Homo sapiens: one gene and its partners. The protein of the gene in region 2 interacts with the protein of the main gene of each other region in a biochemical or structural test. Each region holds a gene or a part of one and is shown on either strand. Other genes may lie near its edges. The genes, in order: RBP1, LRP2, SYNJ2BP and LRP2BP.

Evidence for each region.
Region 1: the proteins of LRP2 (region 2) and RBP1 form a complex in vitro, tested with the Homo sapiens proteins (one study listed by BioGRID).
Region 3: the proteins of LRP2 (region 2) and SYNJ2BP form a complex in vitro, tested with the Homo sapiens proteins (one study listed by BioGRID).
Region 4: the proteins of LRP2 (region 2) and LRP2BP form a complex in vitro, tested with the Homo sapiens proteins (one study listed by BioGRID).

What each region holds. Positions count from the first base shown.
Region 1 is NC_000003.12:139,536,726-139,544,018, forward strand, and holds the start of RBP1 (retinol-binding protein 1), read right to left. Parts: upstream 3,018-7,293; 5' UTR 2,994-3,017; coding exon 2,735-2,993; intron 2,235-2,734; coding exon 2,056-2,234; intron 1-2,055. UniProt on the Homo sapiens protein: Cytoplasmic retinol-binding protein. Accepts retinol from the transport protein STRA6, and thereby contributes to retinol uptake, storage and retinoid homeostasis.
Region 2 is NC_000002.12:169,352,515-169,359,543, forward strand, and holds part of LRP2 (low-density lipoprotein receptor-related protein 2 precursor), read right to left. Parts: intron 1-7,029. UniProt on the Homo sapiens protein: Multiligand endocytic receptor. Acts together with CUBN to mediate endocytosis of high-density lipoproteins. Mediates receptor-mediated uptake of polybasic drugs such as aprotinin, aminoglycosides and polymyxin B.
Region 3 is NC_000014.9:70,365,995-70,372,115, forward strand, and holds the end of SYNJ2BP (synaptojanin-2-binding protein), read right to left. Parts: 3' UTR 505-6,121; downstream 1-504. UniProt on the Homo sapiens protein: Regulates endocytosis of activin type 2 receptor kinases through the Ral/RALBP1-dependent pathway and may be involved in suppression of activin-induced signal transduction.
Region 4 is NC_000004.12:185,371,922-185,378,950, forward strand, and holds part of LRP2BP (LRP2-binding protein), read right to left. Parts: exon of another isoform or gene 6,287-7,029; 5' UTR 6,266-6,286; coding exon 6,160-6,265; exon of another isoform or gene 5,918-6,159; intron 5,742-5,917; exon of another isoform or gene 5,209-5,741; intron 5,098-5,208; coding exon 4,988-5,097; intron 3,806-4,987; coding exon 3,692-3,805; intron 2,541-3,691; coding exon 2,398-2,540; intron 2,320-2,397; coding exon 2,214-2,319; intron 1,159-2,213; coding exon 935-1,158; coding exon of another isoform or gene 931-934; exon of another isoform or gene 589-930; intron 1-588. UniProt on the Homo sapiens protein: May act as an adapter that regulates LRP2 function.

The DNA of each region.
Region 1 (7,293 bases), on a different chromosome or scaffold from region 2:
TTCTTTGCCACACTGTGTTGCGAGTGTTGGTGTGCCTGCCTCCACTGCAAAGACTTTGCTTTCCTGGACATCAGGGCCTGTGACATGCTCTGCTGTCCTGTGCCTGCCGTGGTGACCAGCCCGTGAGGGAAGCAGTATGTTCAGGGCAGTGGTTAACTAAAATCCTCCCTCTGCACTTCCCCAAGGTCACACAGCAAGAAATCCTGCAGTGGTTTTCTTATCTGTAAAATGAGGCTTGAAAGGGTGTTGTGAAGATTAAGTCAGCTAATGTAACGTTTGAATAGCATCTGGCATGACAGTAAGCACTTGATGAGTACTGCATTTGCTAGTATTACTAGGTGATCAATAAATGTTTCATGTGTTAATGGATGAAGAAAGGAAGGAAAGAGTGAAGATAATTAGTACAAGCCAGCACATGCCAGATTTGTGGTGACCCAAAATAAAGGTTCGATGTGATCTGTGAGTTCCACAATAGTGAGTGGGGGTAAGGATTATTCTTAAGGAGCAAAGTTCCATGCAGTGTGCCGGGGAGCAGGTCTTGGGCAGTAATGAGAAAGGCAGATGCCATCTGAAGGTCTCCTTTCCTATTGTGAGTCTTTCCTGCAGATTAAGAGTCCTTGAGATTTTTAAAGGCACAACCTGACATTTCTCTGCAACAATGGTGTTTTCTCCCATTAGTGGTCCTTCCAAGGCCACTCCCTGCTGACTACCCCCTCTTTCCCATCATTCCAAACAGCAGACTCAGATACCAATCCTGACTGCCTTCAGATGAATAGACAAGGTGGGGGGATGAGTCATCCAGGCTCCAGATGCCTATTCCCAGACATGGGCATCCCTTCAACTACAATCCTAACAGACCTCAGCTATCTTGTTTCTGCACAGACTACCAGCAGAGAAGCTGGCAGAAAGCAGGACTGTGGGCTTCAACATCAGAAGGCCCAGGGCTCAAGTCTCATCTCTTACAAGTCTCTTCCTCTGTCTGAGCCTCAGTCACTGCATAACATGGGGTTACTTATCCCTCCCTCACTGTGCTGTGCTGTAAGATGACTAGCACAGTGCTGGACACACAGCAGACCAGCGGTAAAGACCCTTGGTAAATGGTGGGAGGTGGTGGGTGAGGACCCCATCAATAAGCAAGGTGGCTCCTGGGATGAACATAAGCCACTTCTGAACCCAAGACTATAAAGGGAGAACAAGAGTACCTTGACCTCCCAGCAACCAGATAATGTTGATGGAGGCCTGGGGCTGGCCTTCCGGCATCTGCTGTGGCAGTACTAATTGGGATGTCCTGGGTCAGGAGTTTCCCACCCTTGTGGAAGGGAGCTCTTGGCCCTCCCTCTTCCCCCACTGCTGTTTCCTCTGGTCTGGGCTGGAGGGGCCCTGACTTACTGAATAGGTGTCAGCTGCAAAGTTCAAAGAATGCTCAGTAGGCATTGGATGACAGGGTGGGGCAGGGGATGGCCAGGAGCCAAATCCCAGCTCTGGGGCAAGGATGGGCAGATCAGGGGGCTTCCAGCAGAGATCAAGGGGCCCCCAGCTTCCTGGAGTGACTTCACACTAAGTCATACTGAAAGTTTACACTTCAAAGGGGTTACCTGTGTTTCTTTTTTCTTTCCTCCTTTCTTTTCTTTTACCCTCCACCAGCCCAGTCAGCCAGAGAACGGCATCAACAGACATGCTTTGAACTCCAGACCCTCCCTAGCTGTGCTACTCTGGACATGTTACTTCATCTCTTTGAGACTGTTTCTTCATCTGTAAAATGGGCATATTCATATCTCCCTCAAAGGCTGTGTGAGGCTTAGGTGAAGTCATGTGCATAAAGCACCGGGCAGAGTGCCTGAACGCAGTGGAGACACAGCACATGGCAGCCTTCATAACCATCACCTTCCAGTGTAGATAGAGCAGGATGCTTCATGAGTTGGTGCTGCCCACCATGGGGGCTGAGAGTGGGAAGAGTTTTCAGTCCCTCAGGCCCTTGCCCCCTCTCGGATGAACTAGCCCAGCCCTTGGTCAGGCCCCCTGGGCAGGAGACACCAGGTGGACGCGAATCCTCACCATGCACTTGCGGTCATCTATGCCTGTCAGATCCTCCTCAAACTCCTTCCCAACCTGGAAGTCCATGATGTAGTTCCTAAAAGTGCTCAGCGTGCGGATGATCATATGGTCACCGTCCTGCACGATCTCTTTGTCTGGCTTCAGCAAGTTGGCGATTTTGCGCAAGGCCACATTGACGTCTGCGGTGGGGGTTGAACGGGGAGAGAGAGAGCGCCAGAGAGTTGGCAGGGAAACTCAGAGAACCGTTCCCAAGGTAGCGGGGCCCCAGGAGCCCTCTCCGCCCGCGAACACTGTTAGGGTTCCCGCTGGCTTTGCGTTGTCTCTGCGCACAGCCTGCCTGTGCCTCCCCTGCCGCCCCCAACAAAGTTTTCTGCTCTTATGTTAACCGTTTAAAAACAAAAAGTAGCAAACCAAGCCCCAGATTTACTAATGAAATTACCCACCTCCAGGGCCAACGAGCAGACATTTGCCACCGGTTAACCTAACAACCCCGAATTCTCCAATCTGCAGCCTGGGGGCTGCCCTGGGAGCGGTGGCCGAGGACGCCCTTTCTGGCGTCCGGGGGCACCGGACCGCGGCTCGCCGGGATGGAGGCAGGCAGGCAGCGTCTCGGGAGGGCTCTAGGGAGCGGCCCGGAGCTGCTCGGCGGGGCGCCCAGGGCGCAGCGGGCAGCGCTTACCGAGGGCGCGCAGGTACTCCTCGAAATTCTCGTTGACCAACATCTTCCAGTACCCAGTGAAGTCGACTGGCATTTCGGGGAGTGACTGGAGCCAGTTGGCCACAAGCGGGCGGGACGGCTGGAGACTGCCGGGACAGCGGCTGCCGGTGCTACGCGGGTGGTGGGCGGCCCGGAAATGAGCGCCCTCCGGGGACAGGGGGCTCTGCGGGGCGGCGACAGCTGGATTCCCAGCGCGCACAAAGCCTGCGGGAGGATCCATTGTAGCGGTCGCTCCTCCCCGCTTAGCGAGGGCGGGCGCAGGGGCGGGGGATGTCGAAGGGTCAGGTTTGTCCAGGCCGCGCCACCTTCGTTTCAGACGTTCAGTTCGTTTCCCCTACAAAGGAAGAGGAGACCGGAGACGGGACGTTTGCTTTGTTGGCCGAACTCTTCGGCTGCTGGGGATTTCCTTCAAACGCCATTAACTTCTCACACTCAGCAGCCACTCGGGAGTTGGGAAACAATCTCCTGGGGTTTGTGCTGGCGTGATTAAGGAAAGAGGCCACTTACAGGCCTTTGTCTAAAGCCTCGCGCCGGTGGTGGCTGGGGTCAGGAAAGCTGGGAGGTTCAACTACGGGCGAGAAAATTGGGGCACTTTCCACGTCTCTCCCGAAAATAAAAGAAAGGATGCCGGGCACGGCGGCTCACGCCTGTAATCCCAGCACTTTGGGAGGCCGAGGCGGGCGGATCACCTGAGGTCAGGAATTCGACACCAGCCTGGGCAACACGGTAAAACCTCGTCTCTACTAAAAATACAAAAAATTAGCCGGGCGTGGTCGCGGGCGCCTGTAGTCCCAACTACTCGGGAGGCTGAGGCAGGAGAATAGCTTGAACCCGGGAGGAGGAGGTTGTAGTGAGCCGAGATCGTGCCACTACACTCCAGCCTGGGCGACAGAGTGAGACTCTGGCTCAATAAATAAATAAATAAATAAGTAAAATAGTTGATGTTATTTGAAGTGCATGTGGCTAAAAAAGCCTTCTGGGTGATTCTGATGCACAATCAACTTTGAGATCCACTGCTGCTTTATGCAAATGTAAGCAATATACTGTTTATTAATGTTTCCTCCCGTTTCACCTAATGGCAGCACTGTACTCCACGGTGTTCTGGACTTTGCTTTATTCACTTAATATATTCTGGAGACTTTTCCATAGCTGTACATAGAAAGTATCCCCATTATTTTACGGAGTATTCCATTGCTTATCCAGCTTGTCCCCTGATGGACAAACTATATTGTTTCTGATCTTTCACTATTAAAAGCAGTACTGCAATGAAAATCTTTGATCACATCTCCTTTGTCACCTGCGTGGGTATGTCATTGTGGTTTAACTGCATTTGCCACCAAGTAGATGACATAATCACATGGGCTGACTTTTTGACCCTCTTTTTGACTACCTCTTTTAAATCGCTTTTTGCACAAATCACAGCCTAAGTGACAGCAGATAACATTTTCTTCCCCTCTAGCACCACCTTCCCCAGGGTGCCTCCCTGGGGCTCACATGTGTTCTCACAGTGCAGGCTGAATTAGGAAAAGGAGCCTCTTCCTCAGGGTAGAGACAGCTTCCTCCCAGGCAGCAACTTGGATTTCAGCGCTTCTCACCCTCTTTCCCTAGACTAGGATTTGTTTCTTAATCTCTGTGCTACTGACATTCTAGGCCACATAAGTCTTTGTTACAGGAGCCTGTCCTGTGTACTGTAGGATATTTAGTGGCATCCCTGGCCTCTACCCATTAGATCCCAGTGGCACCCAGACACAAAGATGTCGCCAGACATTGTCAAAGGCACTGGGGTGTGGGTGCTGGGTAAACCAGCCCTGGTTGAGAGCCAGCTCTAGGCCCTTGTTTCCCACTGCTTCTTTGTCTGGCTCTGGATGGTTAGGTCATCAGTTGTTCACACAAGCACTGGCTCTGTGTCCCTCCCTAGCCAGCCCAGGGCTCATCTTGGCTGGGCACTCAGGGCAACCTATCCCAGTCCTTCCAACCTGAAGGTGCAATAAGACACCTCGCAAGGATGGATGGGGCCTGGCCCAGGTTCTGTAAGGCATCCCACCAGGGCCAGCCATGCTTTGGGCTTTCTTGTTATCCTGACTTACCAGAATGGAGCATTGGTCAAAGGCTTAAGCAGTGAACTGGCCATTCCTTGGTCACTTCCAACTAGTCTAAACTCTTCTCCCTGCTCTCTGATGCCTCCAGCCCAGCTAGCCGGATTTCTCATCCTCCCCAAACTTCTCCCTTTATGCTGAATCACCTGAGATGGTTTATGCCAAATGCTCAGCACAGTGCCTGGCACACAGCAGAGGCCAGTCTGTTCTGACTCCCTGCCATGCTTGGAATGGCCCTTTCGTGCTCGAGGCAGAGGCCTGCCCACCTCTCCAGTCCTTCTTGTCCATCCCAAAGAACCACAAGCTTGCCACTCCTCCCTCTTCTGACCACGTTGGATAACTTCTGCTCACCTGATCTCACTTTTCTGACCTGGTCAGCTGAACATATAGCACTTAATTCAGCTAGTTTCACTCAGTTTCTGTCTGTCCACCTCTTTGTCTAGTCTTCCAAATGGGTCAGTACGCTCCTGCCCTTCTGGGTCTCCTCCCAGGCACAGCCCCTGGTGGCTGTGCTATTTCTTGCAGCAAAGGGTAGGCTGCATGTGTAGGCTTTAGAGGCAGAATGCCTGTTCTTGCTAGCTGGGTCACTGTCTACCAGAGTGATTTGGGGTAAGATACTTGATCTCTTTGTGGCTTAGTCACCACATCTGTGAAATGGGGACACTCTGACTACCTCTCAGGGTGCTGAGAAGCAAAGGATGAGGAATCTACAGGGCGTGGCACTGAGTACTGTTCCAGATCCACTGCTGTTTGAGCCAGAGGGGCCCTAGAAGGGAGGGAAAAGACAAGGGAGAGCCTGGGTGCTGGTTTGTGCCCCTCTTCTGGGGCTTTAAGATCAGTCTAATGAGTTGAAATGGGAAATGCTCTTCAGAAGCATCAGCTACCATCAAAGTTATCCTTCCTCAGCCCATGCTGTTGTGCTTGATTTAATCCATTTGGTTCTCGATTTGGAAACAAAAAGTATTTTTTGGAGCTCCTTTCTGTCTGGGTTAATCTTCCTTGGAATGTGTGAAGCAAAGAAAGAGTAACTGAACACAGTATGTAAAGAAGAAGGAGGGTGTCTGTGTGGGCTTGCAATCAGTGAGGGCTCCCTGGACGGGGTGAGGCTCTAGCTGGAGCTTGAGGACAGCCAGGATCAGAGAGATGAGGAGGAGGAAGGATAGTCCAGGTGACCAAGGAGACAGGTGAGCAATGGAGTGCCAGAGTGCCAAAGCAACGGCCAACTTGTAAATGACTGAGAGAAAGAGATGTCAGTATACTCAGGCACCTCTAATGGGGTTCGCTTTATTCAATAGCTTTAAAGAAGAGCAGCAGAGATCTACAACCAATTCTTGGGGGCTCAAATTGCTCCCAAGGCCACAAAGAAGAGCCAGACCAGTGGGAAACCACCCTGGCCTGTGTATAGAGTGAGTTAGACAGGCACAAAGAACAATTTTATGTTGGGGAGGAGAGGAGACAGCCAAGGATCTCCAGCGTGAGCTCCTGAGTGAGGGAAGCTCAGGGACACTGCAGGCCCTTCCTGTGAGGATAGGAAGGAAATATGCCTTTTCATTTTTCAGCTGATCAGTCAACTCCACAGGAACAAACCAGAGCTCAGAAAAATATGTCCATGGGCCGGGCATGGTGGGTCACCCCTGTAATCCCAGCACTTTGGGAGGCCGAGGTGGGCAGATCACTTGAGTTCAGGAGTTTGAGACCAGCCTGGCCAATATGATGAAACCCCGTCTTTACTAAAAATACAAAAATTAGGCAGGTGTGGTGGCACACACCTGTAGTTCCAGCTACTTGGGAGGCTGGACAGGATAATTGCTTGAACCTGGGAAGCTGAGATTGTGGTGAGCCGAGATTGTGCCATTGCACTCCAGCCTGGGTATCACAGTGAAACTCCATCTCAAAAAAGAAAAAGAAAAAAGAAAAATAGGTCCATGAAATGATGCCTCAATCGCCTGCCTTGTGAGGCGGGCAGTACTATGCCTGTATCACTGCAGATCAAGCAGCTTGCCAGGGTCCCCAGTTGTTGGGGTGGCAGAGCTTCCCAAAGGCAATGGGGTTGGAGGAGAGCCCTGAAACAGACCCTGAGGTTCTGTCCCCAGCCCCCAGAAGATATTTCTCTCAAGATCCTGGGGTAGGGGGTGACTTGCAGTCTCATCCCACCCTGTCTGCCAGGTCTGCCCCATGCCAAGAGATTCACTCCTAGCAGGGGAAAGGTGGCCTGATACTTCTACAACTTATAAGAAAATATTTCTCATCTGGCTTCCCTGTCTCTCAGACCATGTCCCTGCTTTTCTTCTCAAGGGCTCATTGTTATCTTGGAGACTTCTAAAATCTTCCTTTTTCCTGTGTTCAAATATGTCTCCGGAGTTATGCGATGGAGAATGACCCTGCTCAAATCTCCGAGCCATTACCATGCCATCTATGAGGTTA
Region 2 (7,029 bases):
TACCTAGATCACACGTTCCCAAAAATTGGTCCAGCCCTCAGAATCACCTTGAAACTTTTAAAAATACAGATTTTCCACATTTTCTTTATCTAGTCTATCACTGATGGGCATTTGGGTTGGTTGTGGCACATATGCACCATGGAATAATATGCAGCCATAAAAAGGAATGAGTTCATGTCATTTGCAGGGACATGAATGACGCTGGAAGCCATCATTCTCAGCAAACTAACATAGGAACAGAAAACCAAACACCGCATGTTCTCACTCATAAGTGGGAGATGAACAATGAGAACACATGGTCACAGGGGGGGGAACATCACACACAGAGAGGGGAACATCACACACCGGGGCCTGTCAGGGGGTGGGGGCCAAGGGAAGGGAGAGCATTAGGACAAATACCTAATGCATGTGAGCCTTAAAACCTAGATGAAAGGTTGATAGGTACAGCAAACCACCATGGCACATGTATACCTATGTAACAAACCTGCACATTCTGCATATGTATCCCAGAACTGAAAGTAAAATAAAATAAAATTTTTAAAAAACACAGATTTTCATACCCCTGCTTTAGTAAGGGTGAGTTTTGATTTAAGAATCTCTATACTTTTTTAAGTTCCTCAGGTGATTTTGATGATATGTCAAGTTTGGGGAGCTAGCTGACTTTGTCTAGGGTCCTTAGAAATTCTAACAATCTGTAAGTTATTGTGATGAAATAATACTTTTGAGAACATAACTAAAACCTTCTCAAAGTTGGATTCCCCCTGGATAGGATCAAGGAAACACGTAGCCCCATTTGCCCTGGCAGCCATATCAGAATCATATGGGAAGCCAGACCGCACACAAAGGTGAAACTTAGGGGGGAGTAGGGTCAAGGAAAACACAAAGAAAGAGAACTGGAGCCCTGACTGCACCTCGCCTGAACCCCACTCTGCCTCAGTATTTTTTACTCACATAAGCCAAGAAATACCCTTTATTGTGTAGGCCATTTTGAGTTGGGTTTTCTGTTTCTTGCAACAAAAAGTATTCTCCACACCCTTCCCCACATCAAAATTAAACCAGTGTGGAAGTACATGCTAGCATGTATCACCCCCCTTCTAGTGAGATTAAAATGTGGGTAGGATTGCCATATTTCTGATAAAATACTTTCATTCTTAAATTCAACTTTAAGAATTTCCTGACAAAATAAATGATTTCAGCCGGGCATGGTGGCTAGCGCCTATAATCCCAGCACTTTGGGAAGCTGAGGCGGGAGGATCACTTGAGCTCAGGGGTTTGAGGCCAGCCTGAACAACATGGAGAAACCTCATCTCTACAAAAAATATAAAAATTAACTGTGAGTGCTGGTATGTGTCTGTAGTCCCAGCTTCTTGTGGGGTTAAGCGGAGAGGATCTCTTCAGCCTGGGAAGTTGAGGCTGCAGGGAGCCATGCACTCCAGCCTGAGTGATAAAGTGAGACCCTCTCTGGCCTGGGTGATAAAGTAAGACCTTGTCTCAAAAAATAAAAATAAACGATTTTGATTTTTTCAACCTTTACTCAGGAAATTTTCTCCTTGTTAATGACATAAAAACCAAAGAACTGGGCCCAAAGTGACAAGCAAATCACTGACAGTATAAGACAGAATATTTTTATAGAGGAATCCAAGAATGTCCAGCATAACAGAAGTGTAGCTACTTTCCTTTTCGTCTTTTTCAGGTTTCCTCAACACCTTCAAAAGTACACATGCTCTTACTTAATGTGAATCAGTAGATCAGTGAGGAAAGACTTATTTTCAAAGTTACCAGGAATCTTCATGTGTTATTCGCTGATAGTACATAAATTTAAAGGAGACCTTGGATATTGCTTACAAACTTGGATCTCAAGATCTGGACAATAAATGCGCCATTGTATCCATGGTAACAGTGGCTCAACTATTCAATGCACAGAATGGTAATTACATTTCCTCCTTTCATTCATTTCTCACTGTTTCCAGTAACCTTGAGGTCAGGCATGACCTGAGGGCTAATGACCAAAAGTGAAACTTCAAATTGTCTAATCTGTCATTATCTAGGAAAGACTTACATTTCTTTGCACTGAATTTCAGTGCTATCCTAAATCAGAAGTGTCCTAATATAAAAGTTAACCATCTTATTTTTAGAATGATAATGTCTCCATTTTCTCAGCTAATGTGATTAGAGATAAGACTTAAATTAGAGACCAACAAAGTAACCATCAGCAAAGAGTACATATATCTGGCATTTCTGAATTAATCCAATAAGGTGTGATGGATACGTGTTCTACCATTTATGAAAGAAGTCCATAGATGAAGTGCTAAGGACACTCAGATGTGCACCAAGATGTGTTCTGTCTCCACAGAAGCATCTTAACCTGTCTGCAAACTCTTTAAGCTTCTTTCTCTCTACCCCATCCTTATAGCAAAGGACTAGTGCTTGGAAAACAGACAAACTCTTAGGAACATAAACATTGGAGTGAAGTAAATTGGAAAAGGAGTAGGAGCCTAAGATTCACAGAAAAATGAAATACTGCACCAGACTTAAGGGATCCTGTAGTCTGATCGCTCAGCTCATTTTCCAGAACTTTCCTGTCTATCACAAAGCTCTGCTCCAAATAAGAAAACTTTAGGATCCAAATAAACCTTCTAAAAGTCCTTCTTTCTCCTGTTCTCCTTCTAAACTTAAAGTTGCAACATGGTCACATGGGCACAGATCACCATGTCTTTTTTCTTAATGTTTCCAATACTTTATTCCTTTCAATTCTGTAAGTTACCCCAGGGCTGCCAGCTCTTGAGAAATTTCTGTAGCTTTTTCAAGTGTGTCTTCACATACAAAATGAAAATAACATCGTCAGTCAATTTTATCTGATAAGGTATACTGAACACCTGTTATTTTTGCATCCCAGCCTCTGTTCACCATTCTCCCAATAATTACCCCCATTTCTCTCTGGACTCCACCCCTTCATACATGATCTCAAAGACTGAGTATACAGCCCAAGCCTAAGCCATGGGAACACATCATGACCCGGGATTCAGTGGTTGGTTCTCCAATGAGTTTATGACCTAAGTAGAGACCCTGAGATGCAACTGAAACTTTTGCTGGGAATAGCTAAGATAAAAACTCTTTTTCTTTCCCAGTGGATGTGATCTGATAGGAGGTGGCTCCAGAGCCACTGACAGCCGCTTTACATCAAAGGAGAACATGTTTAAGAATGGAGTCATCTCAGAGCCAGGAGACGGAAAAAAGACAAGATTGGCCTGACATAGTTTGAGCCTCCATTTTATATTAGGTTGAACCAAATGAAATTGCCAATATTTGACTATTTCTGCATAGGAAAAAAAATCAATCTCAAATGGATCAACCTAATTATCTGTATCTTTTCAACTATGTATTTATTTTCTTTGAGACAGGGTCTCACTCTGTCGCTGAGGCTGGAGTGCAGTGGCATGATCACAGCTCACTGTAGCCTCGACCTCCTGGGCTCAAGCGATCATCTCACCTCAGCCTCCCAAGTAGCTGGGACCACAAGGGCACACCACCATTCCTGGCTAATTTTTTGTATTTTTTGTAGAGATGGAGTCTCACTATGTTGCCCAGGCTGGTCTCAAACTCCTAGGCTCAAGCAATCCGCTCACCTCAGACTCCCAAAGTGCTGAGATTTATAGGCATGAGCCACCACACCCAGCCTCAACTATGTATTTCAATAACCTTCCTTTTTTGCCTCAGACAGTTTAACTTAGTTTTGTGACATTCACCAACATAACAGTACTGAATAACATGTGAAGTTGTGGTAGCCACTGTAAGGATGTAACAACATGCACAGGTGCATCATTCTCAGACCCACGGTAAAGAAGATACCAAAATACTGCAACATCTTCCTCCTCTCAAGTTTGGAAAAAGTAAAATTCTCGTATTGGGTAATAATGATGAATGGAAATCTATATGAGACTTCACAGTTTATTAAACATTTCACATTCATTGCCTTTGCATAACCACCCCGTGAGGTAGATATATGTCCATTTTACAGATAAGAAAACTGCCCCAGAGCACCCAGCATGTGTGGTACTGGATTTCCCAGATAATAAATGGCAGAGGTAGGAATCAAACCAAGATCCTCCAACTTCAAAATCACAAGCCCTTCCCACTTCATCTCAAAACACTGTAACTGTCAAGAAATTACTTCGGAAACATTTGCATTAGGAACATGTGAAGAACCACAGAAATGCTCTTGACATTTCAAAACAACTACTAGCTGATCATTATCAAGAAGCATCCCAGAACTCGGATGCTGAAACATCTCCAATCTTTCTAATGCTGGTGAGATCCTGGGCAGGGTTATTAGGAATGAGTCAATGACTATTTCAGAATCTTAAATGCAAAACTGCAGTCCATTTTAATTGCGAGATATGTAGACACCTCTTTTCAGTTCTCATCTTCCTTAATGTTTCTGTAGTATTGATACTATTGACTCATCAGCACACTGTTGATATTTAATAAATATTCATGGAAAAAATAAAATAAACATTCACAGAATACACAATAGTGGTAAAAATTTTTAATTACTCAAGACTATAAAGTTAATAGGATACGATAGAACCATTTGATTTATACCAAAGGTTCCATCAAGCTTATTTTTTCCATGCTAGAATAGGGCTTCACAATTAGTATTTTTTTAGTTGCTCTAGATTCGTGCAGTCAACCTTGAGAACCCCTTTCCTATCCATTCAACACTCTTTCATAAGCACCTTCTACTTTCTTTTCTTTTTTTTTTCTTTTTTATTTATTTTTATTTTATTTTATTTTATTTTATTTTATTTTATTTTATTTTATTTTATTTTATTTTTGAGACAGATTCTTGCTCTGTCACCCAGGCTGGAGTGCAGTGGCACAATCTCAGCTCACTGCAATCCCTGCCTCCTGTGTTCAAGCAGTTCTCCTGCCTCAGCCTCCCGAGTAGCTGGGATTACAGGTGTGCGTCACCACGCCCAGCTAATTTTTGTGTTTTAAATAGAAACAGGGTTTCACCATGTTGGCCAGGCAGGTCTCGATCTCCTGACCTCATGATCCTCCCGCCTCAGCATCCCAAAGTGCTGGGATTACAGGCATGAGCCCCCACGCCCAGCTCAGCACCTTCTACTTTCTACTTACCTTGTTCTAGCTACTAGGACTTAACAGAAACTCCAAAGCCAATATGACAATGCACTTGCTTCTGATTACACAGGAAATACATCTAGGTTCCTGGTATCATTATTTTTAAATGATAATTTAAAATTTTAATTTAAATATTTTAAAAACCTTTCAGTGTTCTTACAGTGCCTGACTAGAGAACATGAACAATGATTATGACCTAATAATTACCTTTAGTAAGACTGAAAACCTAGTCTTACAGCAGCCTGCACTACAAAACCCAAAGATCTTCAGGAATGCGCTTTGATGGCTCAAGAATTTGAAAAATGGATCTGGAGGTATGGTCTTTGGGAGTAGGGGCACTGACATGGCATCAGTTCTGGACCAAGCTGAAAGCGCATGGTACATGGTTGTAATAACCTATCACAGGATTCCTCTTTGGCCAGGGACAGGTAACCCATCCAATTGTTTTTAAGATTCATCTGCTTATCAGACTGTGCCTTATCTGGCAAGTCAGGATTCCAAAAGGAATCTAGAAATCTCAACCAACCAAACAGGCTGGGGACATTCAGAAGGCATGAATCTAAAAAATGGTCCACTGCAAATTTATATCTTAGCTCTGTCACAGGCTAGATGTCCTTAGGCAAGAAACCTATTAACCGCCTTCCCTTTCATCCTCTCAGCCCCTTTCTTCTCCCTCCTGGGCTAATTGCTTATCTGTAAGAAAAAAAAAATGCAAGCAGACCAGTTGATATCTAAGGTTCCCTCTAGCTGTAAAAAGTCTGAGTTTCTATTAAAATGAGACAGGTGCATGACTGAAGGGAGTTCAGGCAGAAGTCTTATGAAGACTGGTAAAGAGAAACTTTTTCAAGTAGAGAAAGAGAAGCCAACAACTGTGAAATTAAAGCAGCAGTGAGGTTCCAGAGTTGTGATGGAATAAAAACGATACAAGTTTGCTATTGCCCCCACAATCCTTTTAAACATATAAACTTCATGTGAAGATGTAATTGTCATAAAAGCTGATACTAACTCTTAAAAACATTACCACATTTTTATTGGATTAAAGAATATAATGTTGGACCAGGTAAGGTGGCTCCTGCCTATAATGTCAGCACTTTGGGAAGCAGAGGTAGGAGGATCATTTGAGGCCAAGAGTTCAAGACCAGCCTGGGCAACACAGTGAGACCCCATTTCTATTTTTGAAAAATAAGTTTTTTTAATTAGTAAACAGAATACAACTTTGTTTAAGGCCAATACGATTTTCTCAAAAAAAAAAAAAAAAAAGAAAAAATCTTCCAATCACATGCTAGGGTCTGAGAAGTCTTCAGAGAACTGTTAGTGAAAAATGCTTAAAGAAGACTTTCCTTTGTATATTTGAAAATTGGAAATGGAAATAGGAATAGGAAGCAAAACAATATGTTACTTTAAGGGTTGATAAATATAATAAAAATATTGTATTTTTAGATTATTTTCTAGTTTATTTTCACTGTCTATATGCTTTACACCATGCTAAGCACTTGGCATATTTTATCTCTTTATGCTTACAAGATGTCATTGGGTAAATTCTCTTATTATCTTGTCAATTTTGCAGATAAGCCATCTGAGCTATGCAAAGTTGGTTGACTTTCCCAAGGTCACACAGCTAGAAAGTGGTAAAGCCAATGTTGGAACCCAACAGCTTGACTCGAGTTCAGACTCTGCAAAATGTTTTTTCTTGAAAAGCATTACACAAAAGATAAGGAAAATGCAAATAATTTTTAACAACAGATGTGGTATAATTTTTTTCAAAGACTAAACATAGAATACTCAGAGCTCTTTTTTTTCCCCTCCAATTTTTAGTGATGCGAAGTTTGCAATGGTAGCCTACCTAAAAGGTAGTGCTTAAATAAAGGCTGTTACAATCTCATTGGA
Region 3 (6,121 bases), on a different chromosome or scaffold from region 2:
AATGCAGTGCCTGGTACCATGGGAAGTAGAGACAGTAAGGTGTTATAGTTATGAATGCAGGTTTTGAAGCCAGATTGCCTGGGTTTAAATCACAGCTTTGGCACTTAGTAGCTGTATAACTTGGGCAAGTTACTTAACCTCTCTATGCCTTTTATCTATAAAATGAAGATAACAACAGCAGTTATCTTAAGAGTTGTTTTGAGGCTTAAATAAATATTATACATGCAAAGGCCTTAGAACAAAAGCTGGAATATTGATAAGAGCTCCATAATTGTTAACAGGATATCAATGTCCTGTTCCTTATCTCCTATGTCAAAGCCTCAAACTGATCATTTAGATTTCTTCCTCTTTCCACAATTCTGTCAGAGGTGTTACCCTAAGAATATCTAGTACATAGTAAGCACTTATCAGATATTTGCTGAATGAAGGAAAAAACCCTCATCTGGAAGAAAAAAAAATGAGATATTTAATCAACGGTCTTCAAAATAAGGTGAAAAAAGATTGTAAAGATTCAATGACAAAGTTTTATTAAATACCAATACTGGCTAGGCACAATTAGACACATTATTATCTCATTTGCTGTATCTGGTATCAAACAACAAAGCCTGAAAGATTACCATAGATTTTGATGGCCTCATTAACATAATTAATCCGTAGTGACATTCCCTGGATAATAAATACAGTTTTATGTCCGTGTGTCTTCTGTGTCTTCCAAGTTGCTACAGGGCTCTATTTGATCTGAGAAACTGACTGCTGTTTACATCCAGGTATGCAATGTGACATTAGAATTGAAGCAGAAAGGAAGCAAAACAAAACAGGGTTCATGAGGAAAATAATCTTCTAAGAACTAACATGGCCTGGAGGTAAAATGCAAATATATCCGGTAATAAGAAGCCCAGATTACTGCAGATAAAAGATTAAAATAGGATTCAATTATTCATCTCCATTTGCAAATCTACAAACTAGGAGGAAGGACTAACCCTTTTCCTGGGATTAGTAACTAAATTTAATGATTACAGCAAATATAAAGTTCTTTTGTAAATTATTGTTGGTTAAGGATTGACTTGCATTGACAACACACTTTAGCTCTCGCCCCTTTCATTCTCCCCCTGCAAGAACAAAGGCAAAATGAACAGTGAGGAAAACCTGGAAACAGGACCGAGTGTTTGCTATCACTTGATTCCTTTGAAGGAGCAATGCTTTCTCATAATATAGGTTTTATAGTATCATCAAGTACATCAGTTAAGCAAATCAAGTGCTTTGTGTTCTGTATATAAATTACATAATACAAGAGTCTGTGGCAGTTAAGAATCTGGTTCTGCACTTTGGGAGGCCGAGATGGGTGGATCACGAGGTCAGGAATTCAAGACCAGCCTGGCCAAGATGCTGAAACCCCGTGTCTACTAAAAATACAAAAATTAGCCAGGCGTTGTGGCACACACCTGTAATCCCAACTACTGGGGAGGCTGAGGCAGGAGAATCGCTTGAACCCGGGCGGCAGAGATTGCAGTGAGCTGAGATCGTGCCACTGCACTCCAGCCTAGGCGACAGAGCAAGACTCCGTCTCAAAAAAAAAAAAAAAAAAAAAAAAAAGAAAAGAAAAGAATCTGGTTCTGATCAGAATCCTTAAAATACTGTCTTCTTTTTTATCACAATTGCCCTTTTGGATGTGAGTGCTGGTCTCAAAAAGATTTGCAGTTAAAAGAGGAACAGCAAAAAAGACTTACACCAAAATAGCAACCAACTCTAAAACTATTACAGGTGAGAGGTAGACAGCTTCATAACTCAATCTTCTACTACCAGGTGATGTTAAAAAAATACTTTAACATCAAAATCACCTACAAATATTCCTCCACTTTCATATGCTGAGCAATTTCAGCTTAGAGTGACTAAGTGTTATTTATCTCTCTATCTTCGGCACCTAGCACATAGTAGGCAGTCATTAGTTATTTGCTGAATGAAGGAAAAAAACCTTCATCTGACCAACGATAAATTTCACTAAAATTGACTATAATAAAATCTGTATGGGCTCCACATGAAAACTACATGAACTTCACTTCCCCACATACCTGACAGCCTATACACTTCCTTATGTTTCATTTCTTTAAATATACTTTAAAAATTGCTTATTTACACAATAAAAACAATGTCCACCATAAAAAAAAAAGTCTCTAGAACTATTGGAATTAGTCTCAGAATAACTCATCTGATTGGATTTGATATGAGATCATTCTCAGATTGTTCTGTGGAATCTCCCAATTCCAATAATGATGCTTGCAATATCCTTTAGCTGTCTATCAGTTCTGGTCTTTATTCAGGCCCAAAGAGAGAAGAAAGAAGTAGACTAAGATAAAATGGGTAGTCTGTGTATTCATGTAGTGAATATATTCAAGACATAAATATGAGACAGAAAGGTCACTTCTGCAACAAACTAAGTCTGATCAGAGTTAAGTTAGCTTCCCTCTCTGAGCCTTTATTTTTCTCATCTCTAAGACAGATTCATCCTAGAAGCTCTCTGGTCCTTTTTAGCTTCAATGTTCTATGATTGGTTCTCATTTAATTGATGCACCAACTGAAACACTCACTAATCATACATTTTGCTGGAGGTTGATCAATCCTTAGCAAATCAGGAAGAAATGAATGTTCCACTTACTTCGTGCAGAAGCTCAGGAAGCTGGGCTCTAAAGGCCCAAGTTTTTGTTGTTGTTGTTGTTGTTGTTGTTTTGCCTGAAGCAATGTATGTAATTTAATAATTTAAATAGTGTTTAATTAAATAGTGTCTTGTTTAAATGCTATATAACATTTTCAACTGCGGCTGCACACCAGAATCACTCAATGAACTTTATTTTACTGCTGCTTGAGTCCCACCCTCAGAGGTTCCTTTTAATTGATCTGTGTGCAGCCTGGGCATGGGGACGTTTATAAGCTCTCCAGATGATTCTAACCTGAGCAAAGGGAATGATGACTGGCATAGAGCAATGAGTCTCAAACTTTAGCATGAATCAGTCACCTGGAAGGATTACAAAAACACAGATTGTGAGATGCCACGCTCAGAGTTTTTGATTCACTAGGTCTGGAACTTCTTTTTTCTCTTCTGGGAACTTGCTTTTTGTTTTTTGTTTGTTTGTTTTTTTGTTTTTGAGACAAGGTCTCACTCCGTTGCTCAGGCTAGAATGAAGTGGAGCAATCACGGCTCACTGCACCTCAGTCTCCTGGGCTCAAGCAATCCTCCCGTGTAGCTGGGCCTACAGGAATGCACCACTAATTTGTTTGACTTTTAGTAAAGACAGGGTTTCACCACATTGTGCAGGCTGGTCTCAAAACTCCTGAGCTCAAGTGACCCACCTGCCTAGGCCTCCTAGAGTGCTGGGATTACAGGCATGAGCCACCATGCCCAGCCTATGAACTTGCTTTTCTAACAAGTTCCCCAGTAACGCTGATGCTTTTGTCAGGACCTTGCTTTGAGAACCACTTCCAGTGAGAGAATATCATTGATGCTGGCATCTGAAGTCCTGAGTTTAAATCCTGATTCTATTATTACCACCTACATAATCCTAGTCAAGTAATTTTTTCTCTCATTTTTAGTCTCTTTGTGACAATACTTAGATCCCAGAGTTATGAGACATGAAATAATGTACCAATCAGAGTTTGGTACAGTCCCTGGCATAGAACACAATAACAAATATTAACTTCCTTTTTCCATTATACATGGCTAGATGGAACAATTAAGTTAAATCGATAACACATAAGTTGAAACTTCACAGGAAAACAAAGTACAGCTAGTTGAAGCAAACAATATCTTATAATTATACATGTAATACAGAATGATAGAGAAATGTTTTAAGTACTTAAAAATACCTTCGTTCAATTTTCAAAACTTTGAACGTAATAATTTAGGTAGTAGGAACATTAGATGCAATCTATAGAAGAAATATTAGACTCAATCTATGAAGAACATGAATTTTTTTACAACCTATAATGGATCCTGATACCTCATCTATAATTTTAGTTTTCTATAGAATCAATAATATAATTAGTGTACCTGCTTAAAACTGTATTACATTGATCTTCAATGCTACTTAATTTCTGAGAAAACCTAAGTTATAAGAGTACATCAGAATCTCTATTATCAACCAAAGCAAAACTTCTACCAACGACAGAATGGATACTTTTTAAACAAATTTACATATACCAACAAGCAAAAAACTAGAGCTTTCATTCCTGCTTGACATTTTTTTCACTTTGTGTGTCTCAAGGCTCTCTCAGGAATCAGTGTCCAAACCATGAGGTGAATCCTGGGAGGTAAGCAAGCTTGCTGTAGAAGCCGCTGTACATGCCTTCAGGAACAGAAAGGGTACCAGAGGCTGTGCCCTCCTAGTGTGGCTGGTTGGAGTGACAACTAGAATGTTGTCCGTGTTTTTCTGTGGAACCTACAATGAGTCCAGTTGTCTAAGTGAGTCTCAAAGGTATTGAATAGTTGATGTCAAAAGGCACTTTATGTCAGGACTGTTTAAAGCAAGTTTCTCCCTATACCAGTAGTGACCCAGAGGCAAGGTCTTACCGGACCTCTTATTTTCAAAAGCCTTCCCTTTCCAATTGAGCCTGATGCCATTATGTGACATCTTTTTTTCCCTGAATTTCTAAAAGAAAATGTGATGATTACCTGCATATCTTCTTTGTTGCTGCATCGTGTTTTGCATGGTACCCCTTTAATATTGTTTTCAATACTTAGCCTGCTGATATACTTTTAACTTCTCACCTGTTTATGAATTCTCTTAACTAGGCTGTGAGGCCCTTAAGGGTCTTCAACTTGTCCCTTTCCTCCACGTAACTTTCTCAAACGCCCCAGTTCTCAGTAACTTTTCTCTTTTGCTGTCTGTAATATAAACATGACCCCTACTTACACTGTCCTACCTATGTGGCCAATAAGAGTGTTGTCTTCGCAGTTGGAACCCAAAAGCCCTATGGGATGGAGGATATGCACTGTACTTCTTTGTAAAAGTGTCTTGACAAAGCTGATGTCCAATCAACATTTAATTACCAGACTGTCCAAGCTAGAAATGAAATACAGTTGATTGCCTGAGTCCTGATAATCTTGCTAACAAAATTATAAAAGGCCTATAGTATGGCCAATATATTTGGCTAATGGAAATGATTTTCTTAAAGCCAGAAAATTCAGCTACCCATAGTGCTTAAAACCAGCCTTAAAAGAACATGAACAGGATGGTTCCCACCTTATCGAGATCACTGGCATTCCATAGTATCCATTCATTCATATCCTCCTCCTAGGCCGCATGAAACACCTACCACATTTCCCTACCTCCTAAAGCAAACAAAACTCTTTTCCTCCCTCTTGCTGCAAAAAGGTTTATTAAAAGCCGTATGTAGTGTATAAAGCCTTTCAAAAATACTAGCAATCCATGCCTTTCTTTTTTTGAGATGGAGTCTTGCTCTGTAGCCCAGGCTGGAGTGCAGTGGCGTGATCTTGGCTCACTGCAACCTCCGTCTCCCAGGTCCTGGTTCAAACAGTTCTCCTGCCTCAGCCTCCTGAGTAGCTGGAATTACAGGAACGCGCCACCATGTCCAGGTAATTTTTGTATTTTCAGTAGACATGGGGTTTCACCATGTTGGCCAGGCTGGTCTTGAACTCCTGACCTTGTGATCTGCCTGCCTCGGCCTCCCAAAGTGCTGAGATGACAGGTGTGAGCCGCTGCACCCGGCCTCATTTTAACTAAATCTGAAGCCAGAGTTGATTTGATGCCCATCCTGCCAGGGAGGCAGTTCCTTCCCTCAGGTTTGTTAGTAGAAACCAAAAAGTAGCCTGAGAGGGTTCAGGTGCCACCTTGGAGGCACTACCTTATCTTTTGTCCTTTTAGAGTTTTCTTGCTGGGGTGTTTGGCTCCAGCACTATAGCCCTTACCACAATCATTCCACCTGGTTCTTCAATAGGACTCTGAGGTATCAAAAAAGTCACTAGGGCAGCCCAGAGATTGGTACGATTTACCTTTACACCTCAAAGTTTTTTAGATGTGAGCAGCGCTGGATTATGGCAATTTACCTTATAATAACTCACCATAGTTGGCTGTTATAAGAATAAATATTGTTCTTCTAAGATTTTTAA
Region 4 (7,029 bases), on a different chromosome or scaffold from region 2:
GAAACACCAGCACACGCAGAGTCTGATGGCCACTCTAGAGTACACCCAGGTCTGTCTCCCCGACCCACTGCTTTTATACACTGTGGGTAAATACGTGTAGGAAAGTACATGGAGCCTTACGGACTCCGAGAAAAGACGTCTTTTATATTTTATTAGATATAGTGTCAGTCTTTTAACCATATTCTCATGTTACAGTTGTTATGAAGCTGTATTTCAGTGGTGCAGTTATAGAACTGCATGACCGAGGAGTGCAGGAAGAAATGAAGACGTAATAAATGTGTGACATGCCAAGCTGTGTTAAGTACATGATTATAATCCTGCTATAAAGGTATTCTCTTCTTACAGATAAGGCAATTGCTGCTTAAAAAACTTGCTTCAGCTAGTAGCACTGAAATCCTGAAGGCTAATGGCATAGAATTGTGCTATCCAGTATGGTAACCACCAGCCATATGAATATTTACATTAAGTAAAATTTAAAAGTTTAGTGCTAAGTTGCATTAGACACATTTCAAGTGCTCAATAGCTATCATTTCTAATACTGCAGAAAGCTCTGTGAAGGATTTGGCATAGAACATGTAGTAGGCATTCTTATCAATACTTTCATCCAGTTTATTCAAACATTACTGCTATGGTTTGACTAGTAAGTTCCCTTGGAAATCCCAGTGTTGCTAGTGTGATCGTATCAAGAGGTGGGGCTCTTAAGAGGCGACGAGGCCATGAGAGCACCTCCCTCATGAATAGGACTAAAGCCCTTTTTATAAAAGAGGTTTCCTGTAGCTTTCTGCTGTCACGTGAGGACATGATGGTCCTCCCCTCTGGAGGTTGCAGCCCTCTCCTGGCCTCTGGAACTGTGAGAAATAAATTTCTGTTTCTCATAAATTACCTAGTGTGTGATATTCTGTTACAGCAGCACAGAACAGACAAAGACATTCACCTTTTGGAAAATGCAACACACTTTGTAAAAAATTTCATCTTATAGTAATACTCCACGAGATTCCCTTGAGCATAGACGTTTCCGCGTTCTGCTGCTTCTCTTAAGCACTGCAGGGCAGCTTCCGTATCCTGCCGGATGCCTTGTCCATACAAGTACATGAGCCCAAGTGCACCCTGGGACTCCAGATTCCCATTGCCACATGCTTCGGAATGCCAGTAAAATGCCTAAGAAAAGCACAGTTTCATCATTGTATTTGTGATCCACTAGATGAAATTATAAGGGAATACTAGACAGAAAAGAACTCTGTGTTTCCTAGATAGCACTATTAATCATCTCTAGGAAAGAGCGGTAGGCCTTTGGACGCATTTCACACTAGCACACATGCCTAACACAGTGTGGAGGCGAGTTCCTCCGCTGTCTGTCCACAGTGCAGGTGAGATCACAGTCCAGGCAGCTTATGGCAGAGGAAGACCAGCTGTCCTAGGTTTCAGGATTTGGGGATCTTCAGAGTAAGGATCAGGAAGATGCCAAATAGGAACTCAGTGTCTGAAAGGCGTGAGGCACAGCAGAGGAGGGGAAACCACTGATGCTAAGGGAGAGTTCGAGCTCCCGGTGGATTCTAGAGATAGCAGCTGCTGCGATCAAAGACAACCCAGGATAAACGCTGTATGTAGGCTCAAGCACATTTGCCTCATACTCTGCTACAGTGAATTTGAATTCATTTAAAAAATTCCAGATGGCTGCTTATCTATCCAAAGATGGCCTTAGTTGTTATGTGTCTCTTGCAAATTTGCCATTAACTCCTCTCTCACAAGTAGGACTCAGCCCCCATTTCCTTCTCCTTATAGGATTTTTTGGAAACTGTTTCAACCATTGATGAAAGAGATTATATTTCTGTGAAAATCTTAGATGGATTTTATTTGTAACTAATTCTTGGTATATTTTACTTATTAGTATCAATTTCTCAAGTCAACGGTAATATTCATCTGTTCATGCTTAGAAGGATTTTGGCTGTAATTTCAGGACTGTTTCTCTTCTTTTAGCTTTGATACTATAGTATACAAAATACTCTCACATTCATGGTTTCCTTCGGTAGAGGTAGGGAAGGGGACATTTATAAATAAAAGGGCTTTGAGATCCTAAAATGTATGCTTTCTTTACATTTAAAGGAACTATAAGAGATATTTAAAACGACATTCCCCACCATTTTCTCAAAAAAAGCAGTGAAACAAATATTAATCTAAATATAACACTAGCATTAAAAAAGAGGGAACGTTACCTTTTCTAACTCCTTGGGCTCCTTGGTTGAGTAATACAGCCCGAGCATACTTTGAGCCTTCACACTAGCTTTGGGATTTCCATTGTCTGCTGCGATAAGCCACAGTCTACAAGAGAAAGTGAGGCATGTTATTCTCGGTTTCAGCATTTCCTTCAAACCTAATCTTGTTCTCAGGTAGGATTACCTTTCAGCTTCCTCATTTGATCGTTTAACACCTTTTCCTTCATAATAAGCTCTTCCGAGGTTGTAAGCAGCTGCAAATTTTAAGTGTCTTGCTTTGGGACATGGAGAATCAAGAATTTTCTTCATATAGTCCACCCCTTTCTCCTTCGACAAAAGAAAGAGCAAAAAAACCCTAGTTTTTAGTTTTACCCAAACTGAATTTCTTTCTCCCAATAAGGCTGTGAAGTGTCCGCCCTCTGACACGATGTATAATACTATGAATCTGTGCCCAAGGGGTACAATTGTCCTGGATTCTGCAGGGCAAGCGATAAGGAGGAAAAGAATCTCTAAAAGTACATCTCCTACTCAGGCACTCCCAGGAGCTCTGGGATATAAGAAATTTCCTTCCTTTTACAGCTGCCTGAGTTGATTTAAGTCTCGATATGGGCTTCCTTTTTTCTCTCCTCCCTCCCATCTAATAACCCTTATCCTGAATCAGCACAGTTCTTAGAACTGGCTAAAGTGGAAGAATGGCCAGGAACAGCTTTCACATTTATAATTCTTACGATACACTTGCGAGCCCCTAACAAACACCGTCTTCCATTCAAGCATACTTTTACTGTGTGCTCATAGTTTGTATCTAATATACAAATCTTATGCACTAATACGACATCTGCTACGTGGTCACAAGGAAAGCATAGAAGATATTCTAACCACTAGCAAGAACAGATCTGTACCCTCCACCCCCAAATCCATCAGACACAAACCTTCAAACATCACCCAAAAGAAGAAAATAATATTGGACAATCAAATATATTTTGGTTTTTGTTTGTTTGAGACAGAGTCTTGCTCTGTCACCCAGGCTGGAGTGCAGTGGCATGATCTTGGCTCACTGCAGCCTCCCAGGTAGCTGGGAATACAAGCATGCACCACCATGCCTGGCTAATTTTTGTATTTTTAGTAGAGCCTGGCCAACATGGTGAAATCCTGTCTCTACTAAAACTACAAAAATTAGCCAGGCGTGGTGGCAGTGCCTGTAATCCCAGCTACTGTGAAGGCTGAGGCAGAAGAATCACTCGAACCCGGGAAGCAGAGGTTGCAGTGAGCCGAGGTCGCGCCATTGCACTCCAGCCTGGGCGACAGAGCGAGACTCCGTCTCAAAAAAAAAAAAAAAAAAAAAAAAAAAAAAAAATATATATATATATATATATATATATATGTATATATATATGTATTAAAATATAAATAATTTTAATTGTGTCCAATAATCCACTGACAATGAAATCTTAACCACTGTGACCAAGACATTAACTTACAGCGTCTAGAGTGGTCCCCAGCCCATCATAGTACATCACTCCTAGCTGGTAAGTTGCTTGATGGTCTTTCTCCTTGATTTCTTCAAACTGTTCTAATGCTTCTTCATACCATCCCTAGAAGCACCCAGAAGATATTTAATTATTTTTATTATGATCTTAAAGTAATCCCAAAGGCACCAAGTGGTCAAGTGTTTGTGCCCAAGTTAAACACACAGTTAACAAGCAATGCAGCCATATCTGAACCCATGCCCCACGCTGAGGAAGCATGCTCTCAGCCATGGTGCTCTGCCATCCTCAGAGTAACAGGCGCACGATGAGCCCTCAGCAAACATTTGTTGCCAGGATAGACGAAGGTGCCATCGAAAAGTGAGAGAGTAAGTGGGATATAGGTGAACAGCTGCCCAAATAGTCAACAAATGGTGAAAGACAGTCAGTCCCTTTTCAAGTCTTCCCGGGGAAGTCAATGAAAAACCGAAACTACATTACTGAAGTTGAGGGGACAGCTGGCATAGCCATTCCTCAGTCTACTTCCCAGGCCACCCCAACAAGATGTGGAGAAAGAGGGCGATTTCCTCCTATGCTATCCAGGAACAACTAAAGCTTCCCCTAAGTACTAGATAAAAATCAAGGCTTCAATTATTATTAATATGAAGATACCTGGTAATACAAACATACTTTTTTTTGAGAGGGAGTCTCGCTCTGTGGCCCAGGCTGGAGTGCAGTGGCACGATCTCAGCTCACTGCAACCTCTGCCTCCTGGGTTCAAGCGATTCTCTGCCTCAGCCTCCCAAGTAGCTGGGATTACAGATGTGTGCCACCATGCCCAGCTACTTTTTTTTTTTTTTTTTTTTTTGTATTTTTAGTACAGATGGGGTGTAGCCATGTTGGCCAGGCTGGTCTACAACTCCTGACCTCAGGTGATCCACCTGCCTCGGCCTCCCGAAGTACTGGGATTACAGGCGTGAGCCACCGCACCCGGCCTGATAATATAATTTGTATTATTAAATATTTTGAGCAAAAATATAAAAATTTGATTTTTAATCTATAGTGTGAAATGGATTTTATACTAAAACGACTCCCATAAATGGCTTTCATGACATGGATTTTATGAAGAAAAGTCAGGTAGCTCCTCAAGCTGGCAGCACTGTATCCTACTGTTAAAGCCACAGCCATAGTCGATGTAATTGGACAGAATTTCCCTAGTATAACACAGTAAGAAACTCTACATGAAATTTTTGTCTGAGGATCTAACAACAGAATTACAGGAAATGAAAACGAATAAACAAAAAATGATACCTCTTCAAAATATAGTTGACCTCGTAGGAAATATGCCAGAGTGTCTCCTTTCAGTATTCTTTCCTTCAAGAGCTGCAATGCCTTATCCACCAAATTAGCATGGGTGTAATCTGATTTTAAAAAGGTAAGGAATTCCATCAACCACACAATATGAATTTTCTCTCTTGAAGTAATGAATCATATAAAATCCATCTAACACTGTTGACATTCTTGCTTTCTAGTGCTCATTCCTACAACTGGCCTCCTTAGCTCAAGGAAGAAATATTACCTGAAAAAACGTCATGGTCACAGGCCCTAACACTGTGCCTTGTGTAATAAAGCAATACTGGCCGGGCGCGGTGGCTCACGCCTGTAAATCTCAGCACTCTGGGAGGCCGAGGCGGGTGGATCACCTGAGTTTGGGAGTTCAAGACTAGCCTGACCAACATGGAGAAACCCCGTCTCTACTAAAAATGCAAAATTAGCAGGGCGTGGTGGTGCATGCCTATAATCCCAGCTACTCGGGAGACTCAGGCAGGAGAATAGCTTGACCCCAGGAGGCGGAGGCTGCGGTGAGCCAAGATTGCATCACTGCACTCAAGCCTGGGCAACAAGAGCGAAACTCCATCTCAAAACAACAACAACAACAACAAACAATACTTGTTGATTGGTTTCACACTAACCCTGCTCATGGCCAAGTAGAGCCCTAACAGTGCAGGGCTGGGTATAAGTCTATGCATTGGTTTGTCTTCAATGGGCAAAGCTCTCTGGAGAGGTGAGTTAAATTCTTAATTTGAGCCTTAATGAGAGTTCCTCTAACCAAATGAGCAACCCATCCCTAATATAACATTTTTAAGACTTTAGGGAAGATAAGGTATTTAAATAATAATTGCAAGTCAAGCCTGGCATTGTTCTCTTTAACAAACGTGACATCTGCTTTCTGTTTTCTAGAAGCATGTCCTTAAGTCCTGAGAGTAAAATCAAGACCTAACTATCTGTGAGACCTCACTGACGATTTGCTACCAGATAAATGAGCAATTTCACAGATTCTTGCGGGAAAACTCAAAAGGACTAATGATTAACCACTTCCTTGAAATCAATAAAACACATTATTTCTTGTCTCGTTTGCTCTAGCATGCAAAATGAACTGTTAAAGTGTTTTCCAAGGGAAGCTTAAATATCAGGATTTGTACCAGTCTTTTCCTTTTTCCACTGGAAAAATTTTTGGTTTTTAGCAGCATACTGAGATACAGAGGCATAAAAGGGGTTCTTGGGCAACTTTTCACTGGTCAACTTCATCCTTTTTCTGCAATGTGTATTCTATAAGCAAGAAGAAAAAATAAGTGGTAGAAATTTCTTCCTCCAGCGAAGTGCAAAGAGAGACTCTATTCCCACCAGGTGCTCATTAGGAAAAGCATCCTTCTCTCATCGCCTAGATAGAACACCAACCACCAACTCCAGGACGTGAACATTCTTTACTAGGACACCAAGACCCTCCTCCCTAGCTGAGAGACAGCCATTCTCCATGTCATTTTCCACAGCATCGCATTCACCATGAGACCTGTTTGCACGTCCTGTCTGGCTATGGGTTTATACATCAAGATGGGTCAAGTCACCCAGCACAAGTGTTGCCACTTAGTGGGACCTGGTGACACTGCCCACAGTCAGAGCTCTTCTGCACTGGTACCTTCTCTGCCCTTGTAACTGACACTCATCGGACGAATCCATTTCAAATTAAAGCACTTGTCTATTTTACCTGGGAATACACTTTATTTTAGCTGTTGTTGAGTTTTATCTTCCTGTCTGTATTGGATTGCCATGTTATAAGATGGATCACAGTTGAATGGTAAATCAGTGTCTTCATATAAAATGTAGCGGTCACCTCATTTGGGGTGAAGGAGTCCAGGTTGGCCTAGGCTGAGGGTAGTGAGACAGCAAACTCAGTTGTTGCTACACTTTTGTATTTACTCCTTGGCATTCCACTGTTATGGCTTACTTTCACCAATCAGAAACAAGCTTCCAGCAAAGGTTCCTGATTGGTGGTCAAGAGAAGAAATAGAGAG